Homo sapiens: one gene and its partner. The protein of the gene in region 1 purifies or fractionates together with the protein of each later gene. This does not show direct contact. Each region holds a gene or a part of one and is shown in the gene's direction. Other genes may lie near its edges.

The links.
Region 2: the proteins of CTNNAL1 (region 1) and ARHGEF5 purify together in Homo sapiens (tandem affinity purification; one study listed by IntAct). This does not show direct contact.

What each region holds. Positions count from the first base shown.
Region 1 is NC_000009.12:108,978,810-108,982,632, reverse strand, and holds part of CTNNAL1 (alpha-catulin), read left to right. Parts: intron 1-3,151; coding exon 3,152-3,352; intron 3,353-3,823. UniProt on the Homo sapiens protein: May modulate the Rho pathway signaling by providing a scaffold for the Lbc Rho guanine nucleotide exchange factor (ARHGEF1).
Region 2 is NC_000007.14:144,375,582-144,379,404, forward strand, and holds part of ARHGEF5 (rho guanine nucleotide exchange factor 5), read left to right. Parts: coding exon 1-94; intron 95-1,538; coding exon 1,539-1,609; intron 1,610-3,180; coding exon 3,181-3,285; intron 3,286-3,823. UniProt on the Homo sapiens protein: Guanine nucleotide exchange factor which activates Rho GTPases. Strongly activates RHOA. Also strongly activates RHOB, weakly activates RHOC and RHOG and shows no effect on RHOD, RHOV, RHOQ or RAC1.

The sequences.
Region 1 (3,823 bases):
AACACTGGTCTTTGGTTATAGTAGCTACTCTGGCTCTGTTTAGCTGTATGGTTTAGCTGTAGCCTCCTGTTCAAAAGAATGTTCCCTTCCTGTTTTTTGAGCAGTGCCATATCTTTTTGAGCAGTACCATCCATAGGATGATGGTGAGCAGCAAATCATTTCTGCTAGAATTCCTGCTTTTCTCTGTGTTAGAGGGTTGGTACTTTGAGACTATAGTAATAGTATTAGTAATAATTAAAATTTAAAAATCAACAGTAATACACACTAACAGTTATTGAGTCCTTATTCTGTGCCAGCCCTTTTCTGAGTGCTTTAAATATATGAACTTATATAATCCTCAAAGAACTATTGCTATTATTTCCATTACACTGTTGAGGAGCTTGAGAAACAGAAAGGATATTAACTTGCTGGCTACTAAGTACCAGAGTTGGGATTTGAAACTAGGCAGTGTGACTCCAGGAAGTCTGACTTCTCATCAGAAGTCATAGACATGGTGAAGATGCTTTCTGGGTAAGAGCAGTGTCTGAGTTGGGAGGGCCCTAAGAAGTCATCTAGTACAATGCCCTCCTTTAACAGATCAGAAAACTAAGGCCCTGAGAAGTTATCCAAATGCTAAAGGTTCCCACCTCTCTAACAGACAGGGCTATGATGAGAATGGCATTCTTTCCATTTTACTGCACTTTGATTTATTTTATTTATTTATTTTTGAGATGGAGTCTCACTCTTGTTTCTCGGGCTGGAGTGTGGTGGCACGATCTTGGCTCACTGCAACCTCCACCTCCTGGGTTCAAGCAATTGTCCTGCCTCAGCCTCCTGAGTAGCTTGGATTACAGGCACCCACCACCACAGCCGGCTAATTTTTGTACTTTTAATAGAGATGGGGTTTTGCCATGTTGGCCAGGCTGGTCTCGAACTCCGGACCTCAGGTGATCCGCCCACCTTGGCCTCCCAAAGTGCTGGGATTACAGGCGTGAACCACCACGCCTGGCCCTGGACTTTGATTTCTAATTGTGTGAAGGTCTAAGTAGGAACATGGGGTGAAAAGACAGTAATGGAAAGAATATCTCTTTTTGCTCTTAATAAATATTTTATTTAATCCCTACCTGCCCTTTAGGTGGATATAATTATATACTGTTTTTTTTTTTTTTGTTTTTTGTCTTTTTTTTTTGAGGAGGAGAGCTAGTAAGTGGTAGAACCCTTCTTTAGGCCCAGGATTCTCTAATCCCAAAGTCCATGACCTTTCACTTTACACCTCTGGGTTTGTTTATATGATGCCAGTCCTACCACTGAGTCTTCCTGAGGGGAAAGAAACTGTACAGACCAAACCTTCTCTTAGAAATTTTATTGCTGAAAGAGATCTTAGAGATTATTTTTCTAATCTTCCCTTTTTATAAATGCTGAAGGAGGAGATGTGTTGTCAAAGGATAATTAGGGAAACAAGTAAGTCAAGTGAGAGACATCTTTCACCACCTGCTGCTGCATTTCTAGTGCAGGTGAAGGAGGGGCAGTGCTCTGCCTGTGGCTGCTGCCGACAGCTCTGGCTGCTGCCCTCTCGCCATCAGGCATGCTGGAGGCAGAGCTGTTATAAATAGGCTCAGTCTCACTGTCCATGATTATCTCTTTGGCATCTTGCTTTTTTTCTGATGGAGAGTATAATCTATGGAGGGAAACTGGGTACTTTGCTGTATTTGGTACCATGAATATATGGACAAATGTTATGAAACCATATCAGTAAATAGCCTCTTTAAAAAAACCCCACAAAACTCCACTAAGTTGCTGTCTAAAAACATGTATATTTTCTCTCTAAAGGGAAAATAAAAAACCTTAACATAAATGGTATGAGACCAATATAACTGATTTTTATGTTTTAATTCTGTTTAAATTCTCAAATTTAATTCTCTTAAATTAATAAAATAAATTTAATTCTCTGAGAAGATCCCCATTGTAAATTCCATACCTTACTATTATCTGTATTCTTTCCTAGCTTAAATACAAGTTTCTGTCTACCTAGGATGGAGTGATCACCTGACACAACTTGGGCCAAGAGCAGGAGGGGAAGCAAGGACTCTCCTATGGCATCTTGACTTTCCCAAACTTTGATATTTTCATGGATGATGTTAAAATGGGTCACACATAAGGATTAATTAAAATAACATTTGTGAAAGGACTTTGAAGTGTTAAACAAATGTAAGGTATCCTTATTATCACATTCATTGTGACCATAATCATGATCATTACCGCTTGTTGCCTCTTGGCCCAAGTTGTCTGTGTGACATATTTCATGGACTGTAGTGTTTTACAGGGTTGAAATGGCATGATGCATCGTAGAAAGCTGAGAGAGAAAGACTGCACACATGAGCATGTGTTCATCACATAGTCAAGGAACTCCAAACAGGATGGCTGAAGTGAAAGGTTGTTAGGGGGTTCAGGGGGTGAGATAGACTGTTAGAGAAGTATATAAAGACAGGCCATAGAGGATTTTGTGCTATACTACATAGACGTTTGGGCTTGATTCTCTATAGATGGCGAGGAACTATTAGAGGGAGGTGGCAGTATCAGATGGTTTACATTTTAGATTATACAGACCCTCTGGTAGAGGATGTTTGGGTCAGTAAGGTGCTGTTGGGGACTTTAAACAAAATGTAGGGAGACCAGTTAGGTGACTAGGAGAGTCTTTGCTGAATTAACAAAGGAAAAATGGATGTCTTCCCCAGTGCTTCTCACACCCCACATCTTCCACACCATCCTTCCCCCTGGGCTCAGCACATTTCATATTTGGGTGTAACTTATCTTCCAGGACTTTGCCTAGGCATTTTCTCAGATGCAAATCTTTTACCTGGAGGCTGGTTCATTTTTCCTGCCAGTTGCTAGAGGATGATGCTCTTTCTGCCTTAGTATTCACTGATCTCATAGCAATGTCATTGTATTAATTACTCTAGGAATGGTGCTTTGCATGGATATTGAAGGCTTTTGAGCAATGTATCCTTCTGGGTTAGTGGCGAATATAGATATCATTGGTGGCTGTATTTCCCCTCAGCTTGGGAAAAGGAAATGCTAGTGTTTTCCTGGGCACTGTTAGAAATTACAGCCCATTTTGGTCAGGTGGGAATATTGACTCACATGGATGGATAGATGTCCTTTTTGTTCTCAGATGAATATTGAAGCTCTTCGGGAGAATCTTTATTTTCAGTCCAAAGAGAACCTTTCTGTGACATTGGAAGTCATCTTGGAGCGTATGGAGGACTTTACTGATTCTGCCTACACCAGCCATGAGCACAGAGAACGCATCTTGGAACTGTCAACTCAGGCGAGAATGGAACTGCAGCAGTTAATTTCTGTGTGGATTCAAGCTGTAAGAACTTTTTTTAAAATCAAAGTAAATCTTATATAATGGCTTTCCCATAAAGTTTTGCAAGATATGGAAGTTACATAATCACCAGGAGTATGAATTTGTTCCAGAATGGGACAGGATATCTCATCCCTTCTTTCCCTCCTAGTTGGCCAAAATATCCTTCCCATCTAGCACTTACAATACTTGACATTTATTTCCAGGCCTGTTGACTCTCATTCTAGCCAGTCTCAATTATATGCCTCTGTCACTATCACTAGTTCACACTGTTGTCCCTACTCTTCCACCAAACTCACCTCTGGAAAATTCCTCCCCAAAATACTTCTTCAGAGTGAAGAACAGAGGAGTAGACCCCCTCCTAGAGGTTCTTGGGACCTGAGCCTGACTGCTGGAGCCATTCACATGTACACAATTCTTACCTCTGAGGACAGCTGATTTACAGAGACAATGATTTAGAAAACTTATTGGGGTGTA
Region 2 (3,823 bases), on another chromosome or scaffold:
AGCTACATGGACCTCACAAAAACCTGTTCCGACTCTTTCTGCGGCAGAACACTCAGGGCGCCCAGGCCGAGTTCCTCTTCCGCACGGAGACTCAGTGAGATGGGGCTGGGCAGAGGAGCTGGGGGTGGGGGAAGATGGGCAGCCGAGAAAAGAAGTGAGACCAAGGCAGAAAATGTGTCCAGAAGACAGCCACAGCCTCATTTAGCCCATTCTGGACTGGGGACCACCATAGAGAAATTCAGACTCCTAAAACTAATGGATAACTTGCAGGAGATTGGGGTGGGAGAGGGTACAAAGTCACCACCGAGGCTTAGCATCTATTTTATACTCTTTACTCAAGAGGGACAAGGTCTGTGTAGTATCAGAAAGGAGAAGGACTGGTATGGAGTGAGCAAGGAATTGGAATACTGGTATCTGTGAGCACATGCCTCCATGCCTGAGGCAGAAACCCTTCTATGCCCCAGCTGGTGGGCACAGATGTGAATAAGACAAGTGCTGGGTGACTTTTACTTTCTGTGCTCCCATCTTCCAAACCAGTCCTCTATTGACCAGAAATCCATAGTGTTGAGAATGCTGATTTGCTCATGTTTTCAATAATAATAAAATAAAATACATTCACACAGACATACATTTTTGAGAGTATTAATAGTACCTATAAAATCTGGAACACAGTGCCTGCAATAATGAACATGTAAAAGCCTGTAGCTGTTATTGCTATTATAAAAGATATATGAACAGTCATTTAAAAGTTTGACGTATCTAAGTGTTTGAGGATCCCTATGTTGTAGACACTTTTTCAGTTTTGTCCCTTGGAAGATACTTCAGAGTGGGACCGATAACACCTGTTCTCATTTATTGAACAGAAGGACTAGTATCGGAGTTTGTGTGCAAAACAGCACATAAGTCAAATAATCAGGTGCAGATGCATGTTGTTGGTTTGGTGCTTTGGGCACTGTGCCTGGAACAGTAATAGTCCATTCCCAGTTACCTAGGCACAACTGGGCACAGAGGCTAACAGAATGCAGAAACCTTCAGATGATTACAAACCTAAGCTTGGATTACACCGTGCAACAACAACAAATAAAACAGTAGACATATCTCCCTGATCTAATTATTATTATGAAACAATGATCATCTCTGAGATAGTTAGTTGAAGGGAGATAGGCAAGCGAGTGTCAAGAATCATGCCAAATGATGGAGGGAATCTAAACTGAAATGAACACTTCGCTTAGCACAATTTCCAAAACAGAAAATCTCCAGACTTTATGACTAATGAACATTACGCCCCAACTTGGAAGATATGAGAAGCCATTAGGAGGATAATTCTGGAAAGAGAAGAGGAAAAGTAAAGTGTGACAAGACACATTCACATATAGTTCAAGATTGTGTCATGTTTCCAACCAAAAAGAGTCCTATATAGTGTTTGATAGAAGTCATGGAACTAGATAAGTCCTTCCCACAGTCTTTTGCCATCCCCATCCTTGGCCCTCCTCCTACACCCCCACAATTGATGCTATGACCCTGCTTTGTTTTCTCAGAAGTGAAAAGCTTCGGTGGATCTCAGCCTTGGCCATGCCAAGAGAGGAGTTGGACCTTCTGGAGTGTTACAGTGAGTGAGGGTCTAAGAGGGAGAGAAAAGAAAGCAGGGTCAGATGTCACCTTTGGATACAGGAGTTTAAAGGGCTGGGTGGGAACTCTAGGCTTTCATTTATTGATATTCCGTAAAATGTCAGGGTGGAAGATTGGCCTCTAGAGCTTAAAAACCTGAAATATATCGCCTAAAACTGCTCATCACTATGGCAGTCCCCCTTCCCCATACATTCCCTTCCTTGGGCAATAGTTTGCTCTTTTTAAAAATATTTGTCCCCTTAAGTCTAAGCTGACATTATTTTGCCTAGATTTTACCTGCTTGAAGGTCTTGTTGGGGTAGGGGAAGAAAGCCTGACGGTGGTAGAAGGTGTGCAGGAGGATAGCACCCCAGATCTATCTTGACCACACCTAAGAGGATGACCTGAGGTCACCTACCCCAGGCTTCTGGGTGCCCATGGGGAGCCACAGGCACACACACATTATGTATGTGTCTGTGTTCACACCAAGACTGGACTTCTTATGCCTCTCATGTCAGCCCCACAGTTGTCCTCCAGCAAAGATTCCCTAATTTAAATCCAGAGAGAATCTGACCTCAACCCTGGACCTTTAGTGACTGAAAAGAACAAACAACTACAAGGAACCCTGGGAATGAAGTAGGAGAGCCGTGTAGTAACTGAACGCTGTTAACTTGCTCACTGTGCACTCCATCTGCTGGCTTCAGTTCCCCAGTGGGTGAGGAGGGCAGGAGCATTCTTCCTCCTTCATTTTGACCTTGTGAATGGCAGATGGGGAGGATCTTGAGAAAGCAAATAGTAATGCAGTATTCCATTTATTTTACAAGAGAATCAAGGCAGTGTAGTAACAAAAAAGAGCCATAAACCCACATATGATGGAATACTGATAGGTGAAGCATTCTCTGAGGCTTGTTTTCTTGAGCTTCAGATCTATGGACATGTCTCCTGGTTCTCAAAAACATAGAAATAGAGAAATCTTGAATGTCCTCAAGATTCATCTGATCAACCTTGATCAATAACCATCTTGATCACTGATAGATGAGTAAACTGAAGCTCCAGGGCTTTCAGTCTCTGGCTTAGGTCAAACCTGGGACACCACTAGTTAAGTCTTTCTTGGTTCCACATCTGGTACTGGGAAGAAAATGAAGAATAAGACACAGACTCAGATTTTATAATCCAGTTGGAGAGGCAAAACACGTCCATGTAGCAGTTAAATAAGGGATAAATGCCTTGGCATGAACAAGCAGTCTTAAAAGAGTTCAGAACCCATTGAAGACTAGAGTCAGGGACGGTTTCAGAGGGAAGATGGGTCATTAGCTGGATCTCAGGTATTTGAGATGATCACATGTATTTCTCAACCCGTCTCCTCTGGAGAAGTGGAATTTTTGGTCCATTTCATTTCTGGTATGTCTATTTCTTTATTAACCATTTTCAAATTTCCTCTTTTGTCTGTGACTTTCAACAGCCCAAATCTGTCTCTATCTCAAGTCCTCCCACGCCACCCCCCTCCAAGTCCCTGTCTGTGTTCCAATCCCCTGCCTCTCCTAACCTCTCTTCACACTCTTCTCTTCCAAAGACTCCCCCCAGGTACAGTGCCTTCGAGCCTACAAGCCCCGAGAGAATGATGAATTGGCACTGGAGAAAGCCGACGTGGTGATGGTGACTCAGCAGAGCAGTGACGGTAAGCGGGAGCATGCGTGAGCAGCAGGCCAGGCACTGCAGGCAGGGCAGTGCTGGGAGTGTGTTCACTTCCTGCAGCTGCCATGACAAAGTACCATGGACTGGGTGGCTTATGGCAACAGAAATGCATTCTCTCACAGTTCTGGAGGCAAGAAGTCCCAAATCAAGGTGTGGGCAGAGCCACGCGTCTTTTGAAACCTGTAGGGAAGATCCTTCCGTACCTTTTCCAGTCTGGTAGCCCCAGCTGTTCCTTGGCTTGTGGCAGCATCCCTCCAATCTCTGCCTCTGTCTTCCTGTGGCTAGCTGCCTTCCTGTGTCTGTGTCCAAGTTTTCCTCCTTTATTTTTTTATTTTATGTATTATTATTATTTTTGAGACAGAGTCTTGCTCTGTTGCCCAGGCTGGAGTGCAGTGGCGCAATCTTGGCTCACTGCAACTTCCAACTCCTGGGTTCAAGTGATTCTCCTGTCTCAGTCTCCCAAGTAGCTGCGTGAGCCACCACACCTGGCTAATTTTTGTATTTTTAGTAGAGATGGGGTT